Regions from separate parts of the Homo sapiens genome. Here all the other regions are reported to be linked to region 1. The links are microRNA targets in miRTarBase. Many come from high-throughput screens and were not tested one by one. Region 1 holds a microRNA gene; each other region holds the end of a gene's coding sequence.

Region 1 (5,373 bases):
TGCAGCCAACCCTCACGGTGTGTGCAGCAGCAAGAGCAGTGCTTCTCCCCTTGCCCAGGAGCTTCTGATGCAGGCGAGTCTTCCCGGGGAGAATGCCAGCGTGGGGAGAGGTTACTCCCAGGCAGACTTGTGCTTCTTACAACATCTTCTTGTCCTTTAAGTCAAATTCTTTAGTCCATGTCTCCAGAATGATAAGCTTTAGCTCTTTAAATTTTTTTAACAGAAACTAATACCTTGGGAGGGCTTGGAGATAATACAGAGACTTTGTGGCACTGTGAAAAGTTGGTACCGACTTCCCTTCCCTAGAATAATGATGTCAGTTACAACAGCCATCTTTCACCTGCGATGAGCGTGGTACTGGAGGCTTCTAGTCTGATTTGCTTCTTCCAATGGTCCTGGGAAGTCAGTAGGAGAGCCCTTTGCTCTATAGGAGAGGGAACTGAGGACTTAGAGGTGAAGGGGCACTCCAAGTTCACAAGCCAGCAAACAGCGGAGGCAGGACTAAACCTCAGGTTCATTTTGGTCCTCACACCACACAGCATCTGGGAGAGAAGGAATATTTGGGGATGACAATCAGCTGCTTGGATGACCTCCTTCCCTGGTCTCATGCTCCCACCCCTACCCGCTCCCTGAACACTGTCCTCAGGTTCCTTCCTGGGCCTGGCAACATCTCTGGAAAGAAAATCTCACCCAAAGCACAATCGTCCTATCCCCAGCACCTTTCCTCATGACTCACGCCAACCTTGGCCTCTATTCCTACCCCTGTCTGGCCAGGGCTGAGTTAATTAGCTCTGCCAAACAGTGGTACCCAAAAAGAAGGACAGTGAGAGCCAGAGGAGGGCAGGGTATTATCTGCCAACCTTGACCCTTTGGTCTCATAAGTATCCTGTTAGTACTTTGGACCCCAAATGGATGTGGCGGCCCTGCGTGGCACAGCAGGGAAAGAGTGCAGGATCCAAGGACTGGTATCTCCCCAGGAACACAGTCTTGGCAATTTTCTGGGCATGACTGTGGTTGGGGGTGGCAAGGTGGGGGTGGGGCTATAGAAAGAACTAAGTAGGAGAAAAGGAAAATGGAAAGTGGACCTAGGAAGCAGTAGAGCTTAGTTCTAACTCTAGCTCTGCCACTATCGTCCTACCTGTAGATCTGCAGGATCCTGGCTGCTTTTCCTATGTGGGGGAGGGGAAGCTGAACATTTTAAAAAAGAAACAGGGAGAAGGAGCCAGGTTCTTGGATTGACTCTAAGATACCTTTTTTAAAAAAAAAAACAATGCTAAGCGAAAGATTATTCCTAAAAAGTAGAGATGTTTGGAGCTAGCATGAGACTGACACGTAGCACTCTATTTGCTTTTATTTTATGTCATTGCAAAGAAAGCATGACTGCTGAGCTCCAAAGGCCTTGGCTTTGAGAAACATGGGGTTCCAGACCTGCCTTGGCCTTGGAGGGAAAGAAAAACCATAGATGTAAAGCTCTGTGTTTCCAGGAAGCTCCAGAAGAAAGAAGGGGGGCAGGTGACACAGACTGGATGTGACAGATAATAACTCTGCGTTTTACTTTTTCCTAAAAGCACCCCCATTGAAAAGACAGCTGATGTAATTAGGAGGCAATTTGAGGGCTGCTCCGTAACACATCCTGCCCCTCCTTAGGCAGGGCGTCTGGTTTCCCAGCTGCCTGTGTCTGCCTCTCTCTATCAGCTGCATCCGCCGCCTTGGGCAGCAAGATCAGTTTAGGGTTGGATGCTGCCGGCTGGGGTAATCTGACCATCAGATTAAGTCCTCCTGAAAAGGCTCCGTCTGGCTGCCTGGGACCCCAAGCCCATCCCTGGGAGCACTTGGCAGTTGCAGGGTGCTGTCTGTCTTCCTTCATGCCTCCCCGCTTTGTGTGAGAAGAAACTCTCTTGCTGAAAAGTACAGAGGGTGGTGACGCAAAGTGTCCAAAGACGGCGAACAGCAAGATAGCTCTCAAGGAATTACAGAACTTTTAGAAACCTTAGAGGTCATCCAGTTTATTCTAGAGATGGATAAATTGAGGTCCACACAGCAGAAAAATCTTATCTAAGGTATTGAGTATTATTTTTAGGGCAAGATCTGAAACCCAGGACTTCTGACATACTGTGAAGACTCTTGATAATTTACCTACAAATCCCTCCATTTCTTTTTGTAGGAAGAAACCAAAGAGAAAGAAAATTAGATTTTAAGGCTTGGTGAGGGTGGCGGTTTGCACGAACAGGATGGATTTCCCCTGCTCTTGTACCAGGGTCCTAATCAAACTCACATTTGAAGTCCCAGAACCACAGTGTTCACAGAGCCCTGCATAGGTGTCAAAGCAGAGTGGAGTCCAGATTCTAGTGGCTGACTCTAGTGCGTGTGATGAGAGACCTTAGGAAGGAGGAGAGGCCAGACAGACCCAGAGCTGTGGGCTGGCTCTTCCTAACTGGTCCAACATGGCAGACAACCTATGCACCGTTGAGATGCTGAGACCATCTAGAGGATATGCCCAGTCCCAAAAACACATAGTGGAAGAATGTTGATACTGGTTCTCATGTCAGAGGTCAGGCAGGGAGGGTCTCAGTCACTTAGCCTTAGCTCCAGTTTCTTCAAGATGCACATCTCCAGCCTAATGCCAAGTGGGAGGAAGTCCCAAGTCAGCAGGTTCATGGAAACTGACCCTGATCTATCACAGAGAGGAATATAAAAACTGGGTACCCTCACCTGGGCCTTTGGCATCCTGACAGTGGTTATTGGTTCATCCTGTTCGCTCCCATAATTTCCAGCTAAGGAAGAGAACAAGAAATCAAGAAGGACCCCAGAATTCAGTGTCTTCCCCTCAGACTCATCACTTGGCTTCCCTTTCCTTCCTTCTCTTAGTCTCAAAGAGGCCCTTCATCAGGAGGCGCACTGGCCACCATCTCTGTGAAAGTCAGTGTTCTCAAACAACAACTATGATTGCAGGTTCCTCAGTCCAAACCCTACGGCCCCATTTGTTTTCCTGTCTTTCTCTCTGGCTAGAGAGATATATTTTCTTTTGACACCCCACTGCTCCTCTATTAAACCTCAAATGATCTGGGATGAGTGTCTATCAGCCAGAGCATTCCTGCTGACCTCAAAGGATATAAAGGAGACTCCTGAATTGTGGAATGTCAAAGGGGGCTTTTTCCTAAAGAACAGCATTGAAGGTTTGCTAGACCACTGGGAACTGTGGATTGTCTCTTGACTTAAGGGGCTAGAGGAATGACTGTGATGGAACCACTCAGCTGTTGGGGGGATTGGGCCTATGTTGCAAAGCATGCAGAAGATGCTTTTCTAAGTTTAATGTCTTGTCAGACCAACTGGTGTGACTGAATGGAGTTTAGAGGCTCAATTCAGGCATGTGATAGGATCACAGATGTCTGAGTGTTCTTTCTTTCCTTGGGAAGGAACCATGCTGTCCTGAAGCTCCCGAGTATGGGCATCCAGTGATTTCCCTCCCGTTCTTCTCCCTTCCTACTGTGTCTCCCTGGGGTGGGGCACAAGGGCAGCAGGGCTGCAATCTTCGGAAGTGTTCCAGTGGAACCCCACTCCTGATACTAATCACGCTCAGTGGGGGCCTGCTCCGGCTTCCGCTTCTCCACGCTGCTTCCTCTGAGCGCTCCTGTCCTCTCTCTGACGCTGCTTCCTGACCTTGACTCTGACCAGTCGCTGCGGGGCTTTCCTTTGTGCTTGATCTAACCATGTGGTGGAACGATGGAAACGGAACATGGTTCTGTCAAGCACCGCGGAAAGCACCGTGCTCTCCTGCAGCATGGCCCGCCACCGCCGCCACCACCGCTGGACACCTCTCCTCTGCTCTGGAGCACCGCAGCCCACCACCTGCCAGACCCACCTCTCCCAGTCTCAACTCACCAAAGGCAGGAGGGTAGGAGTCTCAAAGGATGCAGATACAGAGGGAAATGGGTCTGGAGAAGCACCCTGGGGAAAGAGATCTGTATCCACATCTCTTTCCCAAAATGGAGTCACCCTCCCCCAAATCTAGTCTGGATGTCAGACAAGGAGTAATAACTAGGTTCAAGCTCAGAAACTACTGTGTCTCTTCTTCCACTGGAAGGGAACAAGTATACCCAAGGCATACGCCCCATGGTTTCATGGGAGAGTCCCAACCCAAGGTCATTTTTCCAAGTGGCAGCTAACCCAAAGGGGAATTCCTACTGCTTGTGACCCCCGACCCCTCCCACCACCACCTTTATTGGTATTCACTTTATTTGAAATGAACGTCAGCATGAGAATGGGTGAAACTCATGTGAGTCTGAGACTTTGGGTTTAACCCAAGGTTCCTTCTGAACCTCATTCCCATACTTTATGAAAACACAGTCCCTGAACCCCATGAAACCTAAAGTCCAGTCTGTTTCCTTGACCTGCAAAGCACAGTTAACGTGGAGGTGCTGGGCTCCTCACCTGGTGCTAATTCTGTTTCAGGGGAGGGGAGTGTGTGTGGACGTGGAAACCTGCTATCTCTGATAATAAAGAGAGGGATCTTGGTACCTCTTATTTTGCTTGTTCCTTGATAAATCCTAGACCCAGTGTAACCAGAAGACTGTGTTGTTCATTCCTGTCCTGGAGTCTTTGTCCTATTCTGCAAGAGAGAGCTAAGGTGGGAACTTTAGCCTAGCTCAGAACTAGAAGCTGAGCCCTGGGCCCCCATCATGAGGTGTGACTCTTATTACCTCGTCTATCTGAGGTTACCCCTCAGAACCAGGAGCCCAACCATTGCTTAGTAGTTTTTTAACATACATTGAGTGCTTGCTATAGGCCAGGCAGTGAACTGTTTTCACATCATTACCTTGTTTAATGTTCACAAAATCTAAAGTCCCACTTTACAGATGAGGATATTGAGGCTCAGAGAGGTTAGCTAACTTACCCAGGGTCATCTGATTCCAGAATGGCTGCACTGTACTGCTGTAATACCCACCTTCCCAGCTGTGGACAACCCCATTGCCTTGAATTAGAACATTTAAAAACTGTGATTTGATAGGGACTTGAAATTTGCTTAAACTCTCCCTTTCAGACTTTCATCTGTTAGTAGAAAGAACTTGAGTAAGAGAGAAAGCATTATTCAAATGGCTGTTCCTCTCCAGCATGGACATACAAAGATCCCATTTAACACAGAGCAAATCCTCGAGCCTGGAGAAGTTCCCTTTCCCACCTTACAGAGAGGGGCATTCTGAGGCCCTCGGCACTGCCCCTAACATGGCAGGGACCAGGCCTCTGGGAGTGGGTCCATAATGGTGCCCTTCCATCAGTGCTTTACTGGCCCCGCAGCCACAGGCTGTGATGAGGCAGTGCCAGCCTCAGACCATGGGTATTTCCCTCTGTTTTCAGGCAGATGGCTGCACTCAT
Region 2 (5,373 bases), not on the chromosome of region 1:
TTTACCCCCAAAAGCTCTTCTTTAATCATATTATTTGCTAGATACATTTATGCATTATTTTTAAGTGAGAATTATGACAAACCCATGGTTACTTTTTAAAGTACGTAAAGAAAGGAAGTTTTAAAAAAAGAAAGTTAGCCTAGTGATGGAAAGAAAGGAGAAAGAGTTAAATTACCTGTAGGCAGACTGGGGCTGTGCCTGAATCCAAACCGGTGCATTTACCATTCATTATACAGCTGCATTATTGGGGGAAGGGGAGTTTAGAAGGGCACTGACCCCGAAAGTTCTCAATACTTCTCACTCATCATCAGGAAGGGGGAAGAAGGAAAGTTTTTTCTCTGGGTATTTTTTTGTTTGTTTGTATTTGTTTTTTTGGCTCCTGAAAAGGCTGGTAAAGAACAGTAACAGTGCAAGCAGTTAGAATATTTCTTTAAAAACAATGTAAAAAATGCAAAACATTAAGGATCTTCAAAGGCCAAACTTTCATTAATATAGAAAGAATTTTCACTAGAGTTAGGCAGCCACCCCAAAACAGCATGGCAAAATGGCATTGGTATAAAGGAAATAAAATACCACACAAAAATCCAAAACAAAACTAAAAACATTTCAAATTAAACCTGGAAGACTAGAAGATTCCAACAGCAGATTTCTGTCCACTACTGAAACATTCCAAAATCCAAGCTCCAAAGGTGCCTAAATGTATTTTAAATGAAACTTTGTTTTGTTTTTTTAAGAAGAAAAAAAAAAAAAAAAAAAAAAAAAGAAAGCAAGCAAGCAGTCAGTGAACCTGGTTATAAATCCTGCAATATATTACATTTTTTAAAATCCTAGTACAACAAAAACAAATCTTAAATAAAATTGAACAAACAAACAAATAAAAACAGTAGCAGCAGTGGTTACCTGTCTGAGCACCTACATTTTCTTAGGAGGGGATCGTGTCTCACCAGCCAAATAGCCCATAAACCTTCTCAAAAAAAGTGAGCCAGGAGAAAAGTATAACACAAGATTTGATTTCACAATGTCTCTAAGCCCCACAAGCCCCAAACTGGGGATTCACTGAATGAAACAAATTTGCTTCTCCATTGCTTTCTTCTTGAGAAAAAGAGATGATTTTCAAAGTCAATGCCTTCAATATGTTCTCAAAGTCTGATAATGTGCTTGATGAATGCCAAGTCTCTTGTTGGGTTTTTCTACTGTTCCAGGGTAGTTTTCTTATTGGTAACATATACAGGAAGATTTCAATGTTCATTGGAGAAAAGCCAGCAGAAATGACCAATCAATTATAGGCACCAAAAAAGAAAAAAACTATTAAAAATTTTAAATAGAATAGTTCATACTTGTATGTTTAGATATATAAAGTCCAGTTTTCATCATGGGTGACATAAAAACAATATCAGAAATAATCATTTTTGAAATACAATTTAGAATTACAATTTTAACAATATACAAAAATTTTACAATTCAGATTTTATCATTACACATATTTGATATATACATTCTCTCTCATAATAGCAATGAAGATTATACAAAAGTTATTAAACAATTATGAAAATAAGTTTAACCTAAATATCTGCTGCTGTTTGTTTCCTTAAGGTACTTCCAGAATGATTTGCTCTTATTCTCTACCTCAATCTTGAAGGAATTCAAGAAGATATCCATGTTTTTAAAATCTAAGATAACTACTGCTCTTTTCATTCTAACATGTGAGTGTACGTTTTAATATCATGTGAATGCATAATAGTGAATAAAGCTAATGAACTAATTTCACATATTTCCTATAATATAGTTGGTTAATTTGGTATAAGTTAAGAAAAGACTAACTACATTTTTCCTGATGCCTTACCCCACCAACACAAACATGAACTACATACTTGTGATATGTAACTATTCAAAGTGTATGTGTCATAATACACATGGCAACCAGATGGTCTCTATATGAACATATGAATGATAATTTAATTAAGCAGTTCTTTCTTCCTCATTTATTTCTCTATACCAAATAGTATGCATCCTCCACAGTATGGTCATTCAGCGAAAGAAGTACCAAGTATTTCTTTCTGTTAATGAGTCAGAGGTATTAATATATGTATGTGAGTCCCCCATTTACCCTGCGCAAGATAAGTTCTTTTAAATGCAATTAGAATATCCTAAGATAAATTACAAACTCCTCTTATGTATCCTTTTCTCTGAGGTGAAATGAGACACTGCACAGATGAGAGGTACTATTCTATTCATCAACAATCAACCTTTCACTCAATTTTAATATTATTTAATTCTATGGAAAAAACAAATTTTATTACATTCCTTTTTAAAACGGGGGAAAAACTGTACAAGTAAGCATGATCAAACCTCTGTTATAGCTGGTTAATACTGATCTTTTATTATTGCCTCGAAGTCTCTCTAGTAGTGTCCAAGAAATTATGTTTAAGGTCCATCTGAAGGAAAATAGCACTGGAGAGGCAAGAAAGGGCTTGGGTAAAAGCTTCAGAGGATTCGTAGGGAGATGGAAAACTTGCTGTTTAAAAAATTACGTTGGGCTCTGCAGCATCTCCATTTCTTAACATACCATCCAAACCCATCAATGGGATTAGTTTTACCCATGTTTTAAAGGCTCATATTATATGCAGTTTGGGGGCTTTTATAAATTCTGCAAGTAAAGGAATATAAAGAGTGGACAGTATTGAAGGCTTAAGAGTAGGGCTATAAGAGACTCAATACTACTAAATAAGTCCCCAAACAAAAACATCCAACCCACCCCCAATCCCAAATCCTATATGTAAAAAGAGAAAATGCATAGCCAGAAGCATTAAAGAAAAGCATGTAGCCTTGAATAAACTGTACACTGAACAGGCTAGAAACAAAAGGAAAAAAACAAACAACGTACATATACACAAAAAGGCCTAAAAAAGCATCTACTCACCCTATGTTTTAAGGTGAATACCTCTACCCCAGTGGAGTCTACTTATGAAAACAACTCATCTGTTTTTTAAAGTCAAAAACTCTGTTTCCCATCATGCTCCATTTTCTAAATTATCCTTTTTGATTAGTTGATGGAAACAAAAAGCAAAACACATACACATGCATGCGTGCACACACATACACATATACTCCCTCGTAAAATGTGAAAAATGCAAATATATAACGCTGGCATTCGAAATCACTTCAGCTTTATACTTAGAACTCATAGGCTCTTGATTTGCCCCCAAAAATATTTTTCCTTGTCCTTATTTAAATGCCCAACTACCAAAACAAAAAGGGAAAAAATAAAAGGCTTTAAATGTACATGTTTCAAGTCAGTGTCTTGTTAACAAAAAAGGTAGCATTTTCTTCACTTTGGCCATTGTTAAAGATGCAGGCATAGAGCAGGAAATGTTAGACTAGCATGTATTAAAAAAAAAAAAAAAAGCAACATTAACAGAGCACATCTTTCAAAAAAGACTAAAACACTAACAAATACAAGTGAATGCACATATTTTAAACTAGTGTAATTTTATCTACATTGAATTAATGTTATTTTGTATACCGGACATTGCAATACTGTTCATTTCCATTTCATCATGCAAACATGCCAATTTTGTCATTAAGAAGCCTTTATTGGGTTATATTCAATTTGACCTCCCACCAAATTAAGCGGGAAAAAACAAAAAAATAAGAAATCCCAGTAAAAGAGCCCCTCAAGATTTCATAAACTACAAACTAAAGCTGCTAGTTAATAAGGAAATGGCAGAATTTTCAGAGCTGTATAATACAAAAATTCCTGTAATTTATGCAGATGTTTTCCTCACTGATGACAAATCTTCCAACACAATGTGAAGTTATGCTACTTGGATATTTGTAGCAAAACCATTTTTTTTTGTACAAAAACAAAAGCAAGGGACCATGAAAAAAAAAAAGTATTTGTTCCTCATGGCCTATGAGCATACACATTTTTTAGCAATTTAAAAGGGTAACTATGAGAGCCTGACATTTTTCTATACCCCACCTATTCTGCCTCTCTATTTGTAGGATTTGTAAATGAAAGTAACATCTTACTAGCAGAGGTCTCATCTATCTCCCACTCTCTCCAACTAATCCTACTAATTTTCTCTCATCTTCCTGAGCATCCTCCATGAACAGCATTGCAAGTTGGTTTTAAAAATAGAAAAGAAGAAAGAAAGTTTTACAAGGGTTTTGTTGGTTAATTACCAGTGGAGTCAGTCCACCAGTAGTTTGATTTCATTGGCTAGCAGCTGGTTCATGTTGAACAGGCCCCCTGGGAGCTTGGTGAGCAGCTCTCGCTCCGTGCTTTCAGGGTCGCTGTCAACAGAGCTGGAACTTGCACTCATGTTGTCAACAGCAGTGCTGGCTGGGGGACCCAGCTCCGGCTCACTAGTCTCACTGGCAGTGGACACCACGGAGAGCAGGGACATACGCCGGGTGAGCCGGCCAGAGGGTAGAAGGGAGGCGGCATAGTCTGCTATGATACCAGCTACATCTAGATTACAAGCCTTATCAAAGGCGATGAAACCTACATTTGCATTGGCCTCACAGACGCAGAAGGAGCCGTCATCTTTCATCAGCAGATCAATGCCACACACATCCATCCCCAGGATATTAGACACCTGGATAGCTAGCTGCTTCCCTTGTTCACTCAATGAGCACATCATCCCCACACCACCTGGCAAAAGAAACAAGACAGGAAATTAACAAAATCATAAACTTTTGAAATAAAATTAAAGTTGGCCTCCAAGGCTAAGCCTTTCTTCTAAATTAATAGTGAAAACAAAGGCGTTATTCTAGTGTAAAATTAGGACTTCTAAGTCTAGATTTCCTTAATCAGGAATCCTCTCCCTATCCAGTCTCCCAGGAATTGATGATTTCGTAAGTTGTCAATATTTTTTCCAAGTCTATCTTACTTGCAATAATATAAACCAAGTATAAGGAAGTTCAGCATAAATACAATTAGACCACTTGATAGATGGCAAAAGTATTATTGGTTTTTGATTTATAAAAATAATAAAAATGCATAACAGAACGGAGGATGGGGTGAAATCTGGGAAGGTGGTGACGTGAACACAGTTTTCTTCCTCTATAGCCCCCACTTCAATCTAGCTGTCATTCCTAAACCAAAAGGCTTCTGGGTTATAAGGTAGCTGGCTGGATATAAGTGAAGTCTTTGGCCTTGCCAAAAGGAAGGAAGAGAAAGGAAGTAGAACTTGATTTTCTCACTTGGAGATCAGCTTCACGAAGCTCTGAACTAAGGACAGGAAAGTAAAGAACTTTAAGAAGAGCTTGGTTCCAAGAGCTCTGTGTATCCATAGGAGTGAGGATGACATGTGAGTTTACCCGTAGTGTTTGACCCCAAAAAGGCCAGAAGTAGCTGGACAGGTGAGG
Region 3 (4,074 bases), not on the chromosome of region 1:
GATCCTGAAGCTTACTATGCAGCCTACAAACAGCCTTAGTAATTAAAACATTTTATACCAATAAAATTTTCAAATATTGCTAACTAATGTAGCATTAACTAACGATTGGAAACTACATTTACAACTTCAAAGCTGTTTTATACATAGAAATCAATTACAGTTTTAATTGAAAACTATAACCATTTTGATAATGCAACAATAAAGCATCTTCAGCCAAACATCTAGTCTTCCATAGACCATGCATTGCAGTGTACCCAGAACTGTTTAGCTAATATTCTATGTTTAATTAATGAATACTAACTCTAAGAACCCCTCACTGATTCACTCAATAGCATCTTAAGTGAAAAACCTTCTATTACATGCAAAAAATCATTGTTTTTAAGATAACAAAAGTAGGGAATAAACAAGCTGAACCCACTTTTACTGGACCAAATGATCTATTATATGTGTAACCACTTGTATGATTTGGTATTTGCATAAGACCTTCCCTCTACAAACTAGATTCATATCTTGATTCTTGTACAGGTGCCTTTTAACATGAACAACAAAATACCCACAAACTTGTCTACTTTTGCCTAAAGTTACCTATTAGAGGTCACTGTCAGAGTTCTCAGTTTCTTAGTTACTATTTAACTTTTCATGTTCAAAATGAAAATAATTCTTAAGTTGAAAGCCCTCTTGAAGTAACCTTTTTATAAATGAGTTATTATAATGGTTTACTTAAATAAAAAACAGGGGTGGGTGCAGTGGCTCATGCCTCCAATCCCAGCACTTTGGCAAGGCCAAGGCAAAAGGATCGCTCAAGACCAGGCTACGTCACAAAGCGAGACCTCCATCTCTACAAAAGATTTAAAAAATTAGCTGAGTGTGATGGTGTAAGCCTGTGGTCCCAGCTACTAGGGAGGCTGAGATGGGAGGATCACTTGAGCCCTGGAGGTCAAGGGTGCAGTAAACGGTGATTGTGCCACTGCACTCCATCCTGGGTGAGAGCAGACCCTGTCTAAAACAAACAAACGAAAAAACCCCCACAGAATGACAGAACATAAAAGATGCACATTTTGTCTTCCAACTTTTTACTCTTCTAAAAGCATCTTTTTTAAATTTTTTAAATTTTTTTTTTTTGAGACAGAGTTTCACTCTGTCACCCAGGCTGGAGTGCAGTGGCGTGACCTCGGCTCACTACAACCTCTGCCTTCCGGGTTCACGCCATTCTCCTGCCTCAGCCTCCTGAGTAGCTGGGACTACAGGCACCCACCACCACACCCAGCTAACTTTTTATATTTTTAGTAGAGACGGGGTTTCACCCTGTTAGCCAGGATGGTCTTGATCTCCTGACCTCATGATCCACCCACCTCAGCCTCTCAAAGTGCAGGGATTACAGGTGTGAGCCACGGCGCCTGGCCTAAAAGCATCTTTTTCTTTAATGCAGAGGTTATGTTGTATTATTAGCATAAATGTTTTTTTTCTGGGAATGCTTATTTCACACAGCACAATACTGAATCTTCTCTGGAATGTGGATCGATTTCAGATGGATGACTATTAAAATGTGTATATTTGCAGATTATCCTTAAAGGGCCACCTCATGCCTTCTAATTTATGTCTTACGGATAAAAAATCAAAATGAAGCATAAAGTAAAAACTGTGTCCAGCTTTACAAGTGGACGCTTAGTAATGGCTGAGGCAATATGTTTAATGTAGCAAATTTTACTTATTTGTCATGATCAGTTTTCACAGTGCTTGTAAGTGCTGGTAATAGAAGATGGACATGGTTTAGGTCAAAACTTGGACCAGAAACCAACTTCCTTTGAAACAGCTCTACCAGTTATAAGAGCAATATGCTGTTAGGTGAAGAACTGTTTAACAGAAATATATTATGTTTTTGCAAACAGGCAGCTGATCCAAAATTGTGTTGAAACACCTCAGAAACATAAATGACATCAATACTCTATAAATTAATGCTGTTAACAAATTTAAAAAATAAAACATACAATTTTCAAATTGAAGGCACACATCCCAGTTGGTACTGGCAAGTTTAAATTGTTTCTAATACTGGTGGACTCTTCATTTGTAACCTACTGAGCAGTTACAGAGGGTACTCCCATTGATACAAAATGCTCAGGTACCGGCATTTCTCCACATCCAGAGTTCTTTCTATATTCCCTTCTGATTTCCATCACTTATCTGTTCCCTGCTTTTGTCCTTCCCCAGTCTCACCCCCATCTCTAGCCATGGTAAGTGAGATGGCGGAAGCAGGTGCCTAGAAGCAAGCAGCAGGAAGCAGCATTTTCCCACTCCTCCCAGAGCTCTGGGCTCCCAGACTGTGTTCCTACCTCTGGACAATGCTTTCTCTTCCTCCTGGGCTCAGAGGGCTTCACCAGAGCCTGGACCACCAGTGGTAATAGCTGCATTATTTAGATTTTGCTTCAGGATGCTCAGAGGTTAAGGTTAACTGATCATACTGAACATCATGAACTCCAAAAGCTTTCACTTAATCCTTCAGGTAAAGGAAAATTGAGGCTTGATGACTAAGTTGGTAGTATTAATAACTACATCAGTCACCATATCTGTACAACACAAGGACTCTTAAATTATACCCAAATCATTTCTATTTGGCTTTAGGAAAAAAACAAGATTTCCTTTTCAGCATTTGTTCTGTTTTGGCCAAATAAAAATTGTTTTCTTTCTTCCTCTAAGCTCACCCTACGGCATGTCAGGTAACAAAAGCCAGTCTGCCCAGCCTTCCATCTTTACCTTTGGAAATCGAGACCTGAATGGGTCCCATTCTTTTTCTGTAATCCAACAGAAAATGAAAAAAAAAACAAAAACCACCAAAACTTTTTCCCCCTATTTGGGATTCTAAGAGGACACATGAGTCACATAAGTGCATTTAACTCAGACAACTTTAGATCCTAATGAAATACTAGACAAGAGAGAAAATGGCATGAGTGGACAGTTCTCCCTCGTCACATACTATCCCTCATGGTTGCATGAGGCTGCCTGCTGATGAGATTCAAGCCAACTTAAATGAAGGGCTTCACCACATGAGAACCTTCAATAGCAACGTTTACATCACTGGGGAGTTTATGAGACCCTGAGAGAGGGCAAGAGAGTTTACAACTGAAGAGAAAGTTCCTATTTATTCTCAAATGCCCTGACTAAACTGCTCAAAAGCAGTTTATATTTTCAAACCAATGTCATGTCCTCAACATAAAGTTCAAATTCATTTACTGTCCATGACACTTAAGCATCCAGATCAATAAATTACAATACACATATTCTGTAAGAGTCTTTTATACCAAGAAGCTTGTTTTTGGTCTTCGGCAGTGACATTTCCTCCCCATTCACCACACAAACGCAGCCCGCTCTCGTAACATGCGGACACCAAAGCGCTGCCACTCTCGCTGATAAATCCACAGTTCCTGTGTTGTATCCAAACAAGCCAACACTGCCCCTCCTTTCCATGCAATCAGCCGGGGGTCCATGTCCTACAGAAGGGATGAAGGCATTTCAGCCTAATCACATAAGACATATACTCAATCATTTACTTGAATATGGGGCCGAGAAAAATCCCTGCTGAGTCAATACCTAGTAAGCCAGGCTTTCACCCTGTATTAAAGACAGCAGGATTAAATACAGGCTCACGCCTGTAACCCCAGCACTTTGGGAGGCCGAGGCGGGCAGATCACGAGATCAGGAGATCAAGACCATCCTGGCTAACACGGTGGAATGCCGCCTCTACTAAAAATACAAAAAATTAGCCAGGCGTGGTGGCAGGCACCTGTAGTCCCAGCTACTCAGGAGGCTGAGGCAGGAGAATGGCGTGAACCCGGGAGGCAGAGGTTGCAGTGAGCCAAGATCGCGCCACTGCACTCCAGCCTGGGTGACAGAGTGAGACTCCGTCTCAAAAAAAGACAGTAGGACTTATGAACTACAGGCATCTTTCTGTTTCAATAGCCAAGAAAACTTTTAAATTTTTATAACTGAAGATGCTACTATTTACTACTATTGCACAAATACCCTATTTACCCTGTACACAGGAACATATATAAATAAATGACTTACTTATTTCGCAGT
Region 4 (5,373 bases), not on the chromosome of region 1:
TGTGGCGCCGGCGTCCTGGGGAGGAGGAGCAGCCTCTGCCCGACCCGGCTCGTGCGGACCCCAGGACCGGGCGCGGGACGCGTGCGTCCAGCCTCCGGCGCTGCGGAGACCCGCGGCTGGGTCCGGGGAGGCCCCAAACCCGCCCCCGCCAGAACCCCGCCCCAAATTCCCACCTCCTCCAGAAGCCCCGCCCACTCCCGAGCCCCGAGAGCTCCGCGCACCTGGGCGCCATCCGCCCTGGCTCCGCTGCACGAGCTCCACGCCCGTACCCCGGCGTCACGCTCAGGTAGGTTGGGGGCCGGGACGCCGCTGCTGTGAGGGAGGCTGGGTCACCGTGCAGGGAGGGGCGTCGCCAGGGCGGCCGTGCCTTTGCACCCCGCGGCCCGCTCCCCGGTCCCCCAGGGTCCCCGCGAGGACGCCGGCCCCGCCCGGGTGCGGCGCGAGTCTGGCCTCGGCGGGCACGGCTCGGGGCCCACGGGCCGCTCGGCTTCGGTTCTCCAGGCTGGGGACAGAGGCTGGAGCCGGGCGCGGTAGACCCCGCCAGCCTGGGCCGCCCGCGCCCGACGCGCAGCGCTGCTGCCAACCCCGGCCCGGGGGTCCCCGCAGAGTGGGTCTCTGCTGCCGTCAGCCCTTCGGAGACTGTCGCGTTGAAAGAATGAACCAGAGTTCGCCCCCTGCCCGCGCCAGGGCGTTTTGGGTCACCGAGTCCTGTGGGGATCCGAGGCGGCTGCCGCCCAAGGCCGAGCGCAGCCTCAGGACCCGCGCCCCACCAGACGGGGTCGTGCGCTCCGCGGCGGGTGGAGAGCCGGGCTCTGGGGTCTCCGCGGCTCGGAGGGCGGCGGGGCGAGGCCGTGCGGCCAGCGCCTGGGGACGCCCGCGGCGGGACAGGGGCCACCCGGGCCGCGGCGCAGCCTGGGCTGAAACCTCCTGGGACGGAACCAAGCCACCTGCTGTGCGCCCTTCTCGGTGAATGGCACCGCCGCCCGCCCGGGCCTCTCGTCCACAGCCCGCGGTGCTCGCACACCTGAGACTCATCTCGCTTCGACCCCGCCGCCGCCGCCGCCCGGCATCCTGAGCACGGAGACAGTCTCCAGCTGCCGTTCATGCTTCCTCCCCAGCCTTCCGCAGCCCACCAGGGAAGGGGCGGTAGGAGTGGCCTTTTACCAAAGGTCAGATTCTTTCACCGCCTCTGCCAGACCCCCTTGTCCCCCACCCCCGCATAGATCTCCAGGGGGCTCAGAAAACTCTGGCCGGTGGCTCACGCCTGTAGTCCCAACGCTTTGGGAGGCCAAGGCGGGAGGATCGCTTGAGGCCAGGAGTTCCAGACCAGCCCAGGCAACAAAAGATACCACATCTCTACAAAAAATAAATTAGCCGGGCCCTGCACGCCTGTAGTCCCAGCTACTGGGGAGGCCGAGGCCGGAGGATCGCTTGAACCCAGGAGTTCCAGGCTGCAGTGAGCTATAATTGTGCCACTGCACTAGAGTCTGGGTGACAGAGACACTGTCTCAAAAAAAACCAACAAAACCCTTAGCTCTTTCACTAGCCGGGCTGGCCTCTTCCTACTGTAAACCTGCTGGGCCCCCGTCTCCCTTCTTTCTCCCCTCTCTCCTGCCCTGGAGCTGCCTGACTCTGCCCACGGCCTGCAGAGACCCCAGGTCTTCACGCAAGGTGCCATTCCTCACTCAGTTCTTGCTCAAACGTCCCTCCATCAAGGAGGGCTTTTTAGCTACCCTTGGCTATGGGATCCGTCCTCCGCGTCAGCCAATTCTCTGCATTAGACTGTAACTTCTCAACATACCTGGTTCCTATGCGTTTTGTGCTCCCCTCTGAGAGGGCAGCGACCCTGTCTTGCTTGCCACTGCATCCCTAGCACCTAGCAGTTGCTTTTCTGGTGACGGCGGCTGTGGCAGTGGCCAATGCGGCAGACTGGTCAGAAGTGAAGGGACAGGATGACTTGGCAGTGGAGGTCAAGGGGAGGGGACTGGGGCAGAGGGAGACACCAGAGGGACAAAAATGAGAAACTGAAGACAGGCTTTGCTACGTGGAGCTCGGGCAGGCCACACTGGTGGATTCTGTCTCCTCATCCTTCTTTTCAGGTCCCTGGGAGAAATCAGCACTTAGAACGTGGTGGGAAGGCGGGGCGGGGTGCCTCGGAAGCCATCCCTGATACAAGTCCCCAGCTTTCCTGCTTCCCCTCTTGTGGTGTGTGGCTTTGTCTCCCTCCCTCCCTCCTGGAAGCCCCGACCTCTGAGGCAGGTGTAAAGGGTGTGTGCTTTGGTGGCCACGGCCACCCTGTGGTGCTGGTTCTCCTCCGAGGGAAGCAGTGCACTCCTGGTCATCTTGGAGACGCCCAACACAGGACCCCACAGGCACCAAGCTTTTTTTGGGAAATGGTTTCACTTCCCACTTGAAAAGCCCTGAATGTCAGTTCCACACTTAGTGAATTTGATCCAAGCTAAACTGAGTCTGTGCCTAAAACTCATCAGGTGCTCGAGTTTCCTGGAAGAATGGCTGGGAACGTTTATGGTGTCAGCTGTAAAGTGGCTGCAAGTCCTTTTGGGAAAAACAGACCCAGGAGTCCTCAGATGATGGCAGAGGAGGGCAAGGGCTGGCAAAGCAGCTGTGCTTAGCCCATCCTCAGGGGAGGGAGGACTCTGGAAAGAGCCTGAGGATACGCTGAGAATAAAAAGTCCAGAGGCCAGCAGGGACTTAGCGGCTGGGGTGCAGGTTAACTCCTGCCCAACTCTTGGGGACAGGGACCCGGGGCTGGGCCCTGCTCAGGTGGCTCTCTCCTTGCAGGGACCGGCGATGCTCTGCAGGCTGTGCTGGCTGGTCTCGTACAGCTTGGCTGTGCTGTTGCTCGGCTGCCTGCTCTTCCTGAGGAAGGCGGCCAAGCCCGCAGGAGACCCCACGGCCCACCAGCCTTTCTGGGCTCCCCCAACACCCCGTCACAGCCGGTGTCCACCCAACCACACAGTGTCTAGCGCCTCTCTGTCCCTGCCTAGCCGTCACCGTCTCTTCTTGACCTATCGTCACTGCCGAAATTTCTCTATCTTGCTGGAGCCTTCAGGCTGTTCCAAGGATACCTTCTTGCTCCTGGCCATCAAGTCACAGCCTGGTCACGTGGAGCGACGTGCGGCTATCCGCAGCACGTGGGGCAGGGTGGGGGGATGGGCTAGGGGCCGGCAGCTGAAGCTGGTGTTCCTCCTAGGGGTGGCAGGATCCGCTCCCCCAGCCCAGCTGCTGGCCTATGAGAGTAGGGAGTTTGATGACATCCTCCAGTGGGACTTCACTGAGGACTTCTTCAACCTGACGCTCAAGGAGCTGCACCTGCAGCGCTGGGTGGTGGCTGCCTGCCCCCAGGCCCATTTCATGCTAAAGGGAGATGACGATGTCTTTGTCCACGTCCCCAACGTGTTAGAGTTCCTGGATGGCTGGGACCCAGCCCAGGACCTCCTGGTGGGAGATGTCATCCGCCAAGCCCTGCCCAACAGGAACACTAAGGTCAAATACTTCATCCCACCCTCAATGTACAGGGCCACCCACTACCCACCCTATGCTGGTGGGGGAGGATATGTCATGTCCAGAGCCACAGTGCGGCGCCTCCAGGCTATCATGGAAGATGCTGAACTCTTCCCCATTGATGATGTCTTTGTGGGTATGTGCCTGAGGCGGCTGGGGCTGAGCCCTATGCACCATGCTGGCTTCAAGACATTTGGAATCCGGCGGCCCCTGGACCCCTTAGACCCCTGCCTGTATAGGGGGCTCCTGCTGGTTCACCGCCTCAGCCCCCTCGAGATGTGGACCATGTGGGCACTGGTGACAGATGAGGGGCTCAAGTGTGCAGCTGGCCCCATACCCCAGCGCTGAAGGGTGGGTTGGGCAACAGCCTGAGAGTGGACTCAGTGTTGATTCTCTATCGTGATGCGAAATTGATGCCTGCTGCTCTACAGAAAATGCCAACTTGGTTTTTTAACTCCTCTCACCCTGTTAGCTCTGATTAAAAACACTGCAACCCAGCTAACTTGTCCAGCATATGTTGAATGGGAGCCAAAGTGTAGCAAATGCTGCCAGGAACCTGTCGGGGCATTCCGGGCGCTGCCTGGGGCGCTGCAGTCTGGGACCTCAAGGAAGGAGGCTGCATAGGACCCCAGGAGAGACGCATTTTCTCTTTCAGATGCAAACAAAATCTTACACTCTTCTCCTTTGGATACAATAGAGAAACGGAAAGAAAGGAAGGAACAAGAGGCCTGTGTTAAGTCCTGTTGATGTTAAGTCCTGTTGAGAGCACCAGGTAAACACTCTGCACCCCTTCTCTTAGTAGTAATAGGTTTTTCACTCCTTGGCCTCAGCTGTCCTCACAGGACAGTGGGGGCAGATCAGAGAACACATCAGAAATACATACAAAGAAATCGTACAAACTGGACAGGTTCCCCTCCCCCTGCCACAACTGGCATCCCAACAGAGGGAACAAGTACTAAATCATTTTTGACGACGTAAATAAGACTGAAAACAGGTTAAACAGTTGCTGAACTTAAGGGCATGACAAAAAGGACTCCTCTCTCTGACCCAGGTAGGCAAAATGCTTTGGGTGTGAGGTAAAAAAAATGGGTAAGAGCAGCTGTACAGAGTGGGGTGAAATGTTAAACAGGGTGCAGTGCCCAAGGGCTAAGAACCAGGTCCAGCGCAAGCCTGAGACCACAGGAGGCACTCACAGCTCACAAAGGCGTCTCGCCTGATTGGCCAGGGCAGGATCTGCCGCCTCTTCTCGGTGCACAGACAGTCATGCCAACCCTGGGCAGGGTGGCATCTGCCCCTGCTTTCCCCACTGAGTGGGGAGACAGGGCAGTGTGCTCAGGCCCTCAATCCTCACGCAGGTAGGCCTCCTGCTCCGACTCAGCCCGCTCCTCCCCTTCCTCCTGTGTTTTCTGACGGAGCTCTTCTATCTGTGCTTCTGCCAGCTTGGTTTCTGCTTTCCGGGAGAGCTGGTGCACCTCTTCCACCTGCAGTTTCACCAGCTGAATGTGATTCCTGGCGGTTATAGAGGCCTGATCTGCGCCTGCCAAAAGATGGGACAATCGGGTTGAGCAGCCGTGCAGGGCGCGGAAGGCTCATGTGGACGTTGGCCTGGGGGTGCTGTGGCTGTCATCTGAACCCCTCTTGGGGTCACTTTCCTTGACCTCCCTGTCTTCTCTCTCTGCAAAGAAACTTCCACCTCTATGTTCAGGTCTGGATTTAACTGACACTCTGTCAAAAACAGCATTTTTCTTCAGCTGTCAGCGGCCAACATCACAATTATTAAATGCAACTCTCACAATCATCTTTATAGCTACAGAGCTTTTAGTACAGACCTTTGATTAATTTTTTTAA
Region 5 (4,000 bases), not on the chromosome of region 1:
GAGACCTGGAGGCCTTGGTGGGCTACTAGCACCTTCTCCACCCCACACCCTTCCTAAGCTGCTGTGAGTCTAGTTGAAAACCCACTGCTCAATTACTGCAATGATTTGGGGTGGGGATTTTGACCAAATTGAGGTTTGTTAAAAATAACATTCTTCAAATATCAAGAAGATATAAAATGCAACTTTGAGCATATACAGGCTCTGAGGGGAAGCTCCGTGTATAGGAATATCGTAATTAGCAGCATCCATAACTTCCATAGCGATTCTGTGATGCCACCTTAAAGTTTCAAGATATAAGATTAAAGCCCAGTAACCAGTTTTTTAAATATAAGATAGTGAGGAAAACTGGTGTTATTATATTACCTGCCAGGTGCTAAATATAAGGATATCTTTGGTTTTTAATGAAGTCATCTTTAGAGTCCTCAGCACCTTTCCCACATGCTTGCAGCCCCTGGTAAGGGAAATGATTAAAAGTCACTGTTATAGACACTACCCTTATGCCATTCCTAAGAGGCTCCTCATTTTACATTGCAGGCATGGCTGGCGCTATTCACTTTCTCTCTGATGTCCTGGGACCAGAGACATCACGGTTTCCAGCATTTGAACTTGACTCTTCGAAGAGGGATTAAAAGGTGCAAAAAGACAACTAAAATACCCATTTGGACCAAAAGCCACCAGATTGCTTAGTGCCTGACACAGAAACAACTGGGAATCCTGAAAGAGAAGCAGACACCGTCACAGGCCCCTCTGGTTAGACTAGCATGAGTGACCGAAGCCATCCATCAACATTTTCTAACAGCACCCTCATCAATATAAAATATGACTTCTTCACATACAGATTCTCTGTAGTGTTTGCATGTTTCTTGGTGTTTGTTGTCTCCAGGTGTAAGCTGTTTTAAATGGAAGGCCCTTCTATTCCTGAGGGCTCAGAGCTGACCATGCATGAATGTATGGCAGTGTCCACTTTTCTGTATAAAATGTATAAAGTGGGGTTTCTTCCATATTGACAAATGAGGGAACAGGTGGTGTCTATCTTGTATATCAGAAAGATTATCTAGGGTCTATCCTAGTGATAATACATTGTCAGCCTTTTCTGTGGCACCTTCCAGATGAGAATGAGGGAGCGACCACTCCAAGGACGGACAGGACCAGCAGTTCTGCAGGGGCGTGCTGGGGTGGTTTGGGAGTGCACAGCTGAACGCTTCCCGTTTGGATTTTACACTCACCTTCGTGTTTTAAAGAAGCCTCAGAGTGCATTGCAGCTCTGTCAGGGCCCCATTCCCAGCAGAGGCTTCAGGTGCTTTGTGTAGAGTCCAGGGCAGCTGGAGCTTTGTTGGGGAGACTTCTGGACCCAAAGGGAGCTTTCCCAAGAAGCCTTTGATGGCCACACTGTAGGCAGCAGTGACTAAGCACTGGCAGTTCCAGAACATTTACCCAGGTATATGTTACTAAAACAGGCTCCACCTCAGTTTATCAACATTATAAGTTACTGTTCTAAGAAAAGTAAATACAGTTCCAGATGGGTTATTGCAGATTAACAGAAAGACACTCAACTGGACTCATGTCCCTGCAATTAAACTTACTTCAACCTTTTGGAAAGTTATCAAAATCTAAATTTGGAATGAATGCATTTCCTATTTTTTGTCTACTTTTGGGTGATAAAAAGTACTAGCCCTTATTTATAGATATGAGAAACATAATGTTCTAACCAACAACATTATGGTATTTGTGTGACTTTTATTTGAAAAAATGTGAGCAGTAATTTGGGTTAGCCTACCTTCATTAATTCTATCACATAGATTTCAGTTTTTAGAAGGGTTTCTGTCATCATGGAAGAGGTGGTCTGGGACTAGGTACTTCTCGTCTTGTGAGCTAAGGCTTGTGTCATGAAAGACAAGAGGCCTCTCTTAACAGCCCAGTCCTTGTCTGCAGGGGGAGGCCTGAGCATTTCCCAGCCCCAGTGTCCACACCTCTCAGAAAAGAGAAAAAAGAATGTCAGTTTAGGAGAAAAGCTTCCTTTTTACTTGTGTGGTTATGTGTGGGGCTGGCACCCGAAATGTGTGACATTCAGCTTCTAAACGATGCCTGGAGAGTCTGTTTGCTGCAGACACCCTTGCTCCTGAGTCATTATTTTCTTTCATGTTAGATTGATGACTTCTGTGAATAGAAATCATCCTGATCCTATTTTACCTGGCCTCCAGGGCCTGTTGATGGGCTTTGCAGGCAGTCCAGCAGCCCACACCTGCAGGCAGGATGCTGTCGTCAATGAGCTGAGGGTAGCTGCTTTGCTGAAGACCTCACACGATGTCCAATCTCATCCAAATAACATTGTTCCCATCCTCCCCACCCACCACATCAAAACATAACACATCACAGCACTCAGTAGAGGTCCTGCCTCCCCATTTCTCAAGGGAAGCCAGTAGGCAACACAGCCAGCACGGTGCTCTCCAGGGCAGCCCCTCTCAGACGAGGAGGCAGCGGGTGCAGCCAGGTGTCTGCAGAGCAGCCACAAAGGTGGCCTAGGATGCGGGTGTCTCCCCAGGTGAGTCCATCCACACACGTTTGAAAAACACTATTAGTCTTTCTAACACACTGAGGGAAAGATTAAAATCTGTGGAATAAAGGAGGAGATTTTATTTACAGATTTTTTTAAAAGCCACCTGGGTTGACACCTTCCTACTTATCCACTAGATGTCATCAGAGGTGCTGTTCCGTGGTTCTGCATTAACCCCTGCCTCATGTCTGTAACATGTGACAGTAATTCCAGCTCGGTCCCTCCAGGCAAAGGAGAAACGGGACTTACTTCACAGGACAGAGGATTGACAGAAGTCAGTTTAAGATAAGTGTTTGAATCAGATTTCAGTACATCTCATTCATTTCTTAGATTTGTATTCACAATTGTGTTCTCTAAAATGTGTCTAAATTTTAAAAATATGTACATGCATAATGTCATTTTAAAATCTGAAGGAAAGAATTTGAAGTCCACAAAAAGTGTTTGAGGTTCTTTGGTTTTGTTAGTAAAAGCCAGTTCTGTGGTGATGACCTATGGAATCGTCATTCGTTTTCATTTCTCCGTGTTTGAGAGTGACATTGGTTAGGAGCAATGGCGACTGTTCCGAAGGTTGGATTCTTCACTTAAAAATGCGGCAGTTGCGGCTGGGCATGGTGGTTCATGCCTGTAATCCCAGCACTTTGGGAGGCCGAGTTGGGCGGATGATGAGACCATACTGGCCAACATGGTGCAACCCCATCTCTACTAAAAATATAAAAATTAGCTGGGCGTGGTGGCGGACACTGTAGTCCCAGCTACTCGGGAGGCTGAGGCAGGAGAATCGCGTGAACTGGGGAGGTGGAGGTTGGAGGTTGCACTGAGCTGAGATCACAACACTGCACTCCAGCCTGGTGACAGAAGGAGACTCCATCTCAAAAAAAAAAAAGTGGCAGTTGCTCGCCTTATGATGTTCTAGTTGCAGGTTTCTTTTTCTTTCTTTTTTTTTTTTTTTTTTGAGACTGAGTTTCACTCTTGTTTCCCAGGCTGGAGTGCAATGGCGCAATCTTGGCTCACTGCAACCTCCACCTCCCAGGTTCAAGCGATTCTCCTGCCTCAGCCTCCCGAGTACCTGGGATTATAGGCGCGAGCCACCATGCTTGGCTAATTTTGTATTTTTAGTAGAGATGGGGTTTCACCGTATCAGCCAGGTTGGCCTCGAACTCCTGACCTCAGGAGATCCACCCGCCTCAGCCTCCCAAAGTGCTGGTATTACAGGCGTGAGCCACTGCGCTCAGCCCTAGTTGCAGGTTTCTATCTATAAGTACATTCTTTTTGATTCCAACAACAAGACCTTTGGAACCCTGGGTCAGAAGAGCCACATCTATCAAGCTCCCTCCTTGTGATGGGCCCTTTGTTTTCACAGCAGCACTGGGAAGGGGGACTGTTGTAATTAACACTTTCTCACAGACGAGACAGTGCCAGACTTGCCCAGCATCTCACAGCCCGCGT
Region 6 (5,373 bases), not on the chromosome of region 1:
CCGGTGGTGGTCGGTGGGTTCCTGTCCTGAGGGGCGGGGAGGAGAGGAGGGGGGGGGTACGAGGCCGGCTGGGCGGGGGGCGCTAACGCGGCTCTCGGCGCCCCCAGGGGCCTTCCTGCTGTGCTGGACGCCCTTCTTCGTGGTGCACATCACGCAGGCGCTGTGTCCTGCCTGCTCCGTGCCCCCGCGGCTGGTCAGCGCCGTCACCTGGCTGGGCTACGTCAACAGCGCCCTCAACCCCGTCATCTACACTGTCTTCAACGCCGAGTTCCGCAACGTCTTCCGCAAGGCCCTGCGTGCCTGCTGCTGAGCCGGGCACCCCCGGACGCCCCCCGGCCTGATGGCCAGGCCTCAGGGACCAAGGAGATGGGGAGGGCGCTTTTGTACGTTAATTAAACAAATTCCTTCCCAAACTCAGCTGTGAAGGCTCCTGGGGGCTGATGGGGAGTGGGGAAGAGGGGTTTCTGCCTCAGTGGCCCCAGGCCCCCCAGCCAGTTAACCTCTTTCTCCCCGCCAAGGAAGCCCACAGAGCAGACCCCACCAAGCCGGCCGCCTGCTCAGGGTGAGGGGGGAAGGGGCCCCCGAGAGCCACTCAGTTCCGCAGCGCTGGGGCCCAGCTTCCCCTCTCTGCAGGGGAGAGGAAGCAGCACCCAGCAGGGCAAGGTGTCTCCTGGGGAAGCCCAGTTCCGATGGGAAGAAACAAATGGGGAGAGGCGGGGTGGGGGGCTGTCAGCCGCCAGGCCCTGCCCGGGCCAACTCCCACCTCTGAGAACCAGGCACAGGGGGCTCCAGGCTCATGCTGCCCCAGCAGACCCCGGCAGGGGAGCCCAACCTGTCATTTTAGAAGCTGCCTTGAGGCCAGAGCCTAGCTTCCTGCCAGTCCCTGGCCAGAGGATGCCCCAAGCCCCACAGCAAGGGGCCTGTGGTGATGGGTGGGGCCCCACCAAGTGGCTTCCCTGGAGGGAGCTCCGTGCTCAGTCACCCCTGGTGCCCAGCCAACCTCTGCCCAGCGTCCACCAATGTGGCTGGGCCAAGGGGTGGGAGCAGGGAGGCGGCAGCGGGGCCAGGGGCTGGGCAGAGCGACCCAAGCTGCCTGTCTGCACCCTGGCTCCATCAACCAGTGCAGCCCCTGACCCTGGGGGAAGAGGGGCGGCTCCCAGGGCCCTCCATGCAGGAACAGCCTACCCTGGACTGGATCCAGCTCTCTCCCAGGCCCAGGTTGTGGGAGAAATGGGGGACCCTCCGCCTCCCAATCGTGCTGGCTGGAACTTTCCTGTGCTGGGGATTCGGCGTTTGCAGCCAGGGTGGCCAGTCAGGGTGCCAGGCTCCCATCTGAACACTGACAGACTGTGGGCTGTGCAGTCTACAGCATTGGGCACAACCTCAGCTTGCTAAAATACTCAGTGCAGGCTGGGTGTGGTGGTCACGCCTGTAATCCCAGCTACTCGGGAGGCTGAGGCAGGAGGATCCCTTAAAGCTAGGGAGTCAAAGCTGCAGTGAGCCGAGATCGTGCCACTGCACTCCGGCCTGGGTGACGGAGACCCTGTCTCAAAAAAGAAAAGAAAACGAGTATTGGGTGGAGAGAGGACCAAGCCCAATTACTACTTTAGTGCGGCTGCCCCGTCCCGTCTGGTGACCACGCACTTCTGTGATGGCCTCAGCGGCTGCCTCCTCCAGGACACCTTCTCCGACTACCTGCTTCCCAGGACCAGCCTGTCCCAGTCACCCCCGGAACAGACTGAGTCACAGTGGATTCCTCTCAGACACCCGTGAGAGTGAAGGAGGGGCTCCCGCCAGCTTTGTCCCAGGACCCACAGCCCCACACGTGCCTGACAGCGCTGGAGGCCATGGGAGGTGCACATGCATCTGGGGGTCCTGGGGGTGCTGACAGCCCTGGGGCAGGGCGACCTCTGACCATCAGCCTCCCAGGCTTGGAAAGGAGGAGCTGTGGAAACCTGGGATCCCAACAGACGCGTGGTGCTTGGCTTCTGTTTTACGGAAAGTTGGGGAAGAGTAAGTGGCCCCCACAATTCCAGGGAATACCCCCACTCCATTCCTGCAGGGCCTGGCGCAGGAAGCCAGGTGGCATCACTGCTGGCGGGGGTCACTGTGCCAGAGGGCTCCCACGGTGCCTCCCCCACCAGGCAGGGGTTCAGCTACTTCCTGCAGCTGTGCTCTCTGCAGAGATGCTGGTGTTCTCAGCTTTGGGGGATTATTCTTAAGAGGTGCAGGTCCTCAATTGCCTGCCACCTTTATGTTGGTTAAAACCCAAAGGAGCAGGCCCAGCCCTGCTGTCTCATGGAGGTCAACCCACGGCCCGCCTGCCTGGACAGGGCAAGGCCAAGCAGGGCCTCTGAGATGCCTCCACCTTGCGGCAATGGCAGACCCTGCTGGGTTGGATGAAAAGCCATTGTAGAGTCTCAGAGGAAGGGCCAGGCGGGCTGAGGGTCAGAGGAAGGGCCAGGCGGGCTGAGGGTCACAGGAAGGGCCAGGCGGGGTGAGGGTCACAGGAAGGGCCAGGCGGGCTGAGGGTCACAGGAAGGGCCAGGCGGGGTGAGGGACAGGCGGGGTGAGGGGCAGGTGGGGTGAGGTGCAGCATCTGGAGCGCGTCCTGCAGCAGCCCAGACACCTTTTCCAGCCTCCACTGCTCACTGGCAGCACCAACGGTGCAGCACCGGGCACGCCTGAGCAGGATGATGAAACATCAGTGAGGGCTTGGCCTGGCTGGGCAGAGACTTTACTAAGTAAATAGGCCAGGGCGGTGGCTCACACCTGTAATCCCAGCACTTTGGGAGGTCGAGGTGGGTGGATCACCTGAGGACAGGAGTTCGAGACCAGCCTGGCCAACACGGAGAAACCCCGTCTCTACTAAAAATCCCTAAACTAGCTGGGTGTGCTGGTGGCCACCTATAATCCCAGCTACTCGGGAGGCTGAGGCAGAAGAATCGCTTGAACCTGGGAGGCGAAGTTGCAGTGAGCCAAGATTGTGCCACCGCACTCCAGCCTGGGTGACAGAGTGAGACTCTGTCTCAAAGAAAAAAAAAAAAGAAAACCGGAATAAACCAGGTGGTCCTGAGAAACCCAGAGACTGAAAATATCGGGGGGCCTCTGCGGGGCCCAGTGAACATCCCCTTCCAAGGGGGCTTTGGCCACCTCTCGGGCTCAGCTCCAGCTGGTGCAGAAAGCGCTTCAGAGGCAAACATCAGAATCACTGGTGCAGGTTCCTCCTGGCGCTGCCACCCTACCCCAGGTGCCTGCTGAGCTGTTGCTGAGTGTGTACTTTCTCGCCCCAAGGCAGCCACAGCCATGGAGCCTTCTGTGTGCAGAGAACACAGGCCATGAGGGCAGAAGCTTCCAGAACAAGAGTGATGCTGCTCCAGCAGCGCTCTTGGTCAGGAGGGCAGGGGGGTCCCATGTTCAGGCCCAGCCCAGTGCCCAAACACGCTGGACACGCCCCCTTGTGCCCCCCACAGGCTTCAGCCCTTTCTCCTCCACCTGGCGCCAGGGCCATGAGAAACAAGGGGGAGACCAGGAGGCCATGAGGCTCTGCGTGTGGATCCCTGGACCGAGGCCACCAAGCTGTCCACGTGGACTGAACAGGCCGTGCTGGACCGTCGGGCTCGCTCAAGCAGCCAGGGCACAGGAGGCACCATGTGCCCCGAAACCTGGCGGGAAGGGCCGTAGGCCTGCTGCACCTCCCAGCAGCCACGAGGGTCTCGTGGAACAGAAGGAACGAAGACCTCCTGGACTACACGAGCCACCAGACGCCAGGGCTTCAGCCCGGCCGCGCTGCCCCGTGCACCGGAGGCTCCGGCCTGGCCGCGCTGTCCCGTGCACCAGAGGTGCGGTGGGCTTGGTTTTCCCACCTGCGCAGTAGGAGGAAGGGGAGGAAACCCCCCCCCGAGGGCTGGCACTGCAACCGGCCGTGTGGGGCAGGGAGACCTTATTTACACTTTATTGACAGACACAACACGTATGTATGTGCGTCGCAGCACAGGCCCTGTGGGCAAGACCGGACGCTCATGATCCCAGGGATAAAAAATCTGTCCGCGAGCGGGCAGGGGGCCCGGGCAGGGGGAGTGCGCTTCCCAGGGCACCATTCGCTTAAAGTGTGTTAATGACTTGTCCAGCAAGTTTCTTTACCTTCCCACACCCCTCTTCTCAACGTCCCCCCAGAGTCCTCAGGGGGGCCTTCGACCTGCAAAAGCCTCACAGGAGTGCGAGGGGCCCCAGCTCCCAGGGCGGCCGATGGAGCCTCACACGGTCACCTTCTCCATCACGCTTTCAGCCACGTGGACTTCGTCTGCCTGGACGGTGACAGCTGCTGACTGGCCGCATATGTGCTGGTGATCCTTCCAGTCCTGGAAGGGAGGACACACCCATGTCAGCAGGGTCAGTGGGTGGAGCAGGGTCTGGGCAGGGTCCCCAAGGCAGACCCCAGAGGGTGCAGCCCTCTGTAACCTCACCTGGAGGTGCTGAGAATGCCCTCCCCAGCCCCCGTGCGCCCAAACTCTGGTGGGCTCTGCTCCAATACAGCCTTCCCCACACTCTCTTGGTTTGAGGAATTGGATCAAAAGGCAAACAACAGGCAGGGCACGGTGGCTCACGCCTGTAATCCCAACACTTTGGGAGGCCCAGGAGGGTGGATCCCCTGAGGTCAGGAGTTCGAGACCAGCCTGGCCAACATGGTGAAACCCCGTATCTACTAAAAATACAAAAATTAGCTGGGCATGGTGGCAGGCACCTCTAATCCCAGCTACTCGGGAAGCTGAGGCAGGAGAACTGCTCAGCCCTGGGAGGCAGAGGTTGCAGGGAGCCGAGATGGTGCCACTGCACTCCAGCCCGGGTGACAGAACAACTCCATATCAAAAAAAAAAAAAAAAAAAGTCAAACAACAAACCAGGGTAAGACTCTCCAAACCAGTTGTTTTGTGTTAGGGATGTAAACAAAAAATATCACACATGCAGAAAAACATTTAAATATGTAAATATTACATATGTAAATTACGATCAAGTTCTGTGGGGGTTTTTTTGTTGTTTTTCGGACAGAGTTTCGCTCTTGTTTCCCAGGCTGGAGTGTAACGCGCAATCTCGGCTCACCACGACCTCTGCCTCCTGGGTTCAAGCAATTCTCTTGCCTCAGCCTCCCTAGCAGCTGGGATTACAGGTGCACGCCACCACACCTGGCTAATGTTTTGCATTTTTAGTAGAGACAGGGTTTCACCATGTTGGTCAGGCTGGTCTCGAACTCCTGACCTCAGGGGATCTGCCCGCCTCGGCCTCCCAAAGTGCTGGGATGACAGGTGTGAGCCACTGCGCCCCGCCCCAGTTCTGTTTTTAATGGCAAAGATGAAAAAGCAAACTGGAACCAGCC

The links. Region 1 holds the annotated microRNA hsa-miR-218-5p (UUGUGCUUGAUCUAACCAUGU, at 3,694-3,714, shown strand). A microRNA usually pairs through its seed, bases 2 to 8, with sites in the 3' UTR of a target mRNA and lowers its output. Matches are read on the target gene's strand: a 7mer-m8 pairs with bases 2 to 8, a 7mer-A1 pairs with bases 2 to 7 and ends in A, and an 8mer does both.
Region 2: miRTarBase lists RIMKLB as a target of hsa-miR-218-5p. Seed matches in the 3' UTR shown: 7mer-m8 at 1,154-1,160.
Region 3: miRTarBase lists ACTR8 as a target of hsa-miR-218-5p. The part of its 3' UTR that is shown has no 7-base or 8-base seed match.
Region 4: the mRNA of DIABLO is a reported target of hsa-miR-218-5p. The part of its 3' UTR that is shown has no 7-base or 8-base seed match.
Region 5: the mRNA of LANCL2 is a reported target of hsa-miR-218-5p. The part of its 3' UTR that is shown has no 7-base or 8-base seed match.
Region 6: miRTarBase lists DEAF1 as a target of hsa-miR-218-5p. The part of its 3' UTR that is shown has no 7-base or 8-base seed match.

The regions. Positions count from the first base shown.
Region 1 is chr5:168,766,552-168,771,924 of GRCh38, reverse strand. MIR218-2 (microRNA 218-2) reads left to right here and starts at 3,670; the gene lies at 3,670-3,779. All of the region lies in intron 14 of SLIT3 (slit guidance ligand 3), which reads left to right.
Region 2 is chr12:8,772,605-8,777,977 of GRCh38, reverse strand. RIMKLB (ribosomal modification protein rimK like family member B) reads right to left here. Exons shown (of 6, transcript NM_001297776.2): 6 at 787-4,657. The coding sequence ends at 4,194. A2ML1-AS1 (A2ML1 antisense RNA 1) reads left to right here. Exons shown (of 2, transcript NR_046715.1): 2 at 1,594-1,767. Among named protein-coding and RNA genes, the nearest start is that of LINC02972, 13 kb to the left of the region's middle. RefSeq lists enhancers at 4,870-5,369, 5,370-5,373.
Region 3 is chr3:53,865,378-53,869,451 of GRCh38, forward strand. It overlaps ACTR8 (actin related protein 8), which reads right to left. Exons shown (of 13, transcript NM_022899.5): 13 at 1,689-3,485. The coding sequence ends at 3,342. It overlaps IL17RB (interleukin 17 receptor B), which reads left to right. Exons shown (of 11, transcript NM_018725.4): 11 at 1-417. Among named protein-coding and RNA genes, the nearest start is that of ACTR8, 15 kb to the right of the region's middle.
Region 4 is chr12:122,203,516-122,208,888 of GRCh38, forward strand. It overlaps DIABLO (diablo IAP-binding mitochondrial protein), which reads right to left. Exons shown (of 6, transcript NM_001371333.1): 6 at 4,153-5,062. The coding sequence ends at 4,866. B3GNT4 (UDP-GlcNAc:betaGal beta-1,3-N-acetylglucosaminyltransferase 4) reads left to right here and starts at 194. Exons shown (of 3, transcript NM_030765.4): 1 at 194-286; 2 at 1,007-1,169; 3 at 2,803-5,373. The coding sequence starts at 1,104. The coding sequence ends at 3,873. RefSeq lists a silencer at 1-508.
Region 5 is chr7:55,430,692-55,434,691 of GRCh38, forward strand. It overlaps LANCL2 (LanC like glutathione S-transferase 2), which reads left to right. Exons shown (of 9, transcript NM_018697.4): 9 at 535-3,046. The coding sequence ends at 629. Among named protein-coding and RNA genes, the nearest start is that of LANCL2, 67 kb to the left of the region's middle. RefSeq lists enhancers at 2,613-2,662, 2,693-2,772.
Region 6 is chr11:640,294-645,666 of GRCh38, forward strand. It overlaps DEAF1 (DEAF1 transcription factor), which reads right to left. Exons shown (of 12, transcript NM_021008.4): 12 at 3,940-4,361. The coding sequence ends at 4,257. DRD4 (dopamine receptor D4) reads left to right here. Exons shown (of 4, transcript NM_000797.4): 3 at 1-13; 4 at 108-413. The coding sequence ends at 310. Among named protein-coding and RNA genes, the nearest start is that of DRD4, 5.7 kb to the left of the region's middle. RefSeq lists enhancers at 1-511, 512-1,123, 1,973-2,518 and a silencer at 2,356-2,650.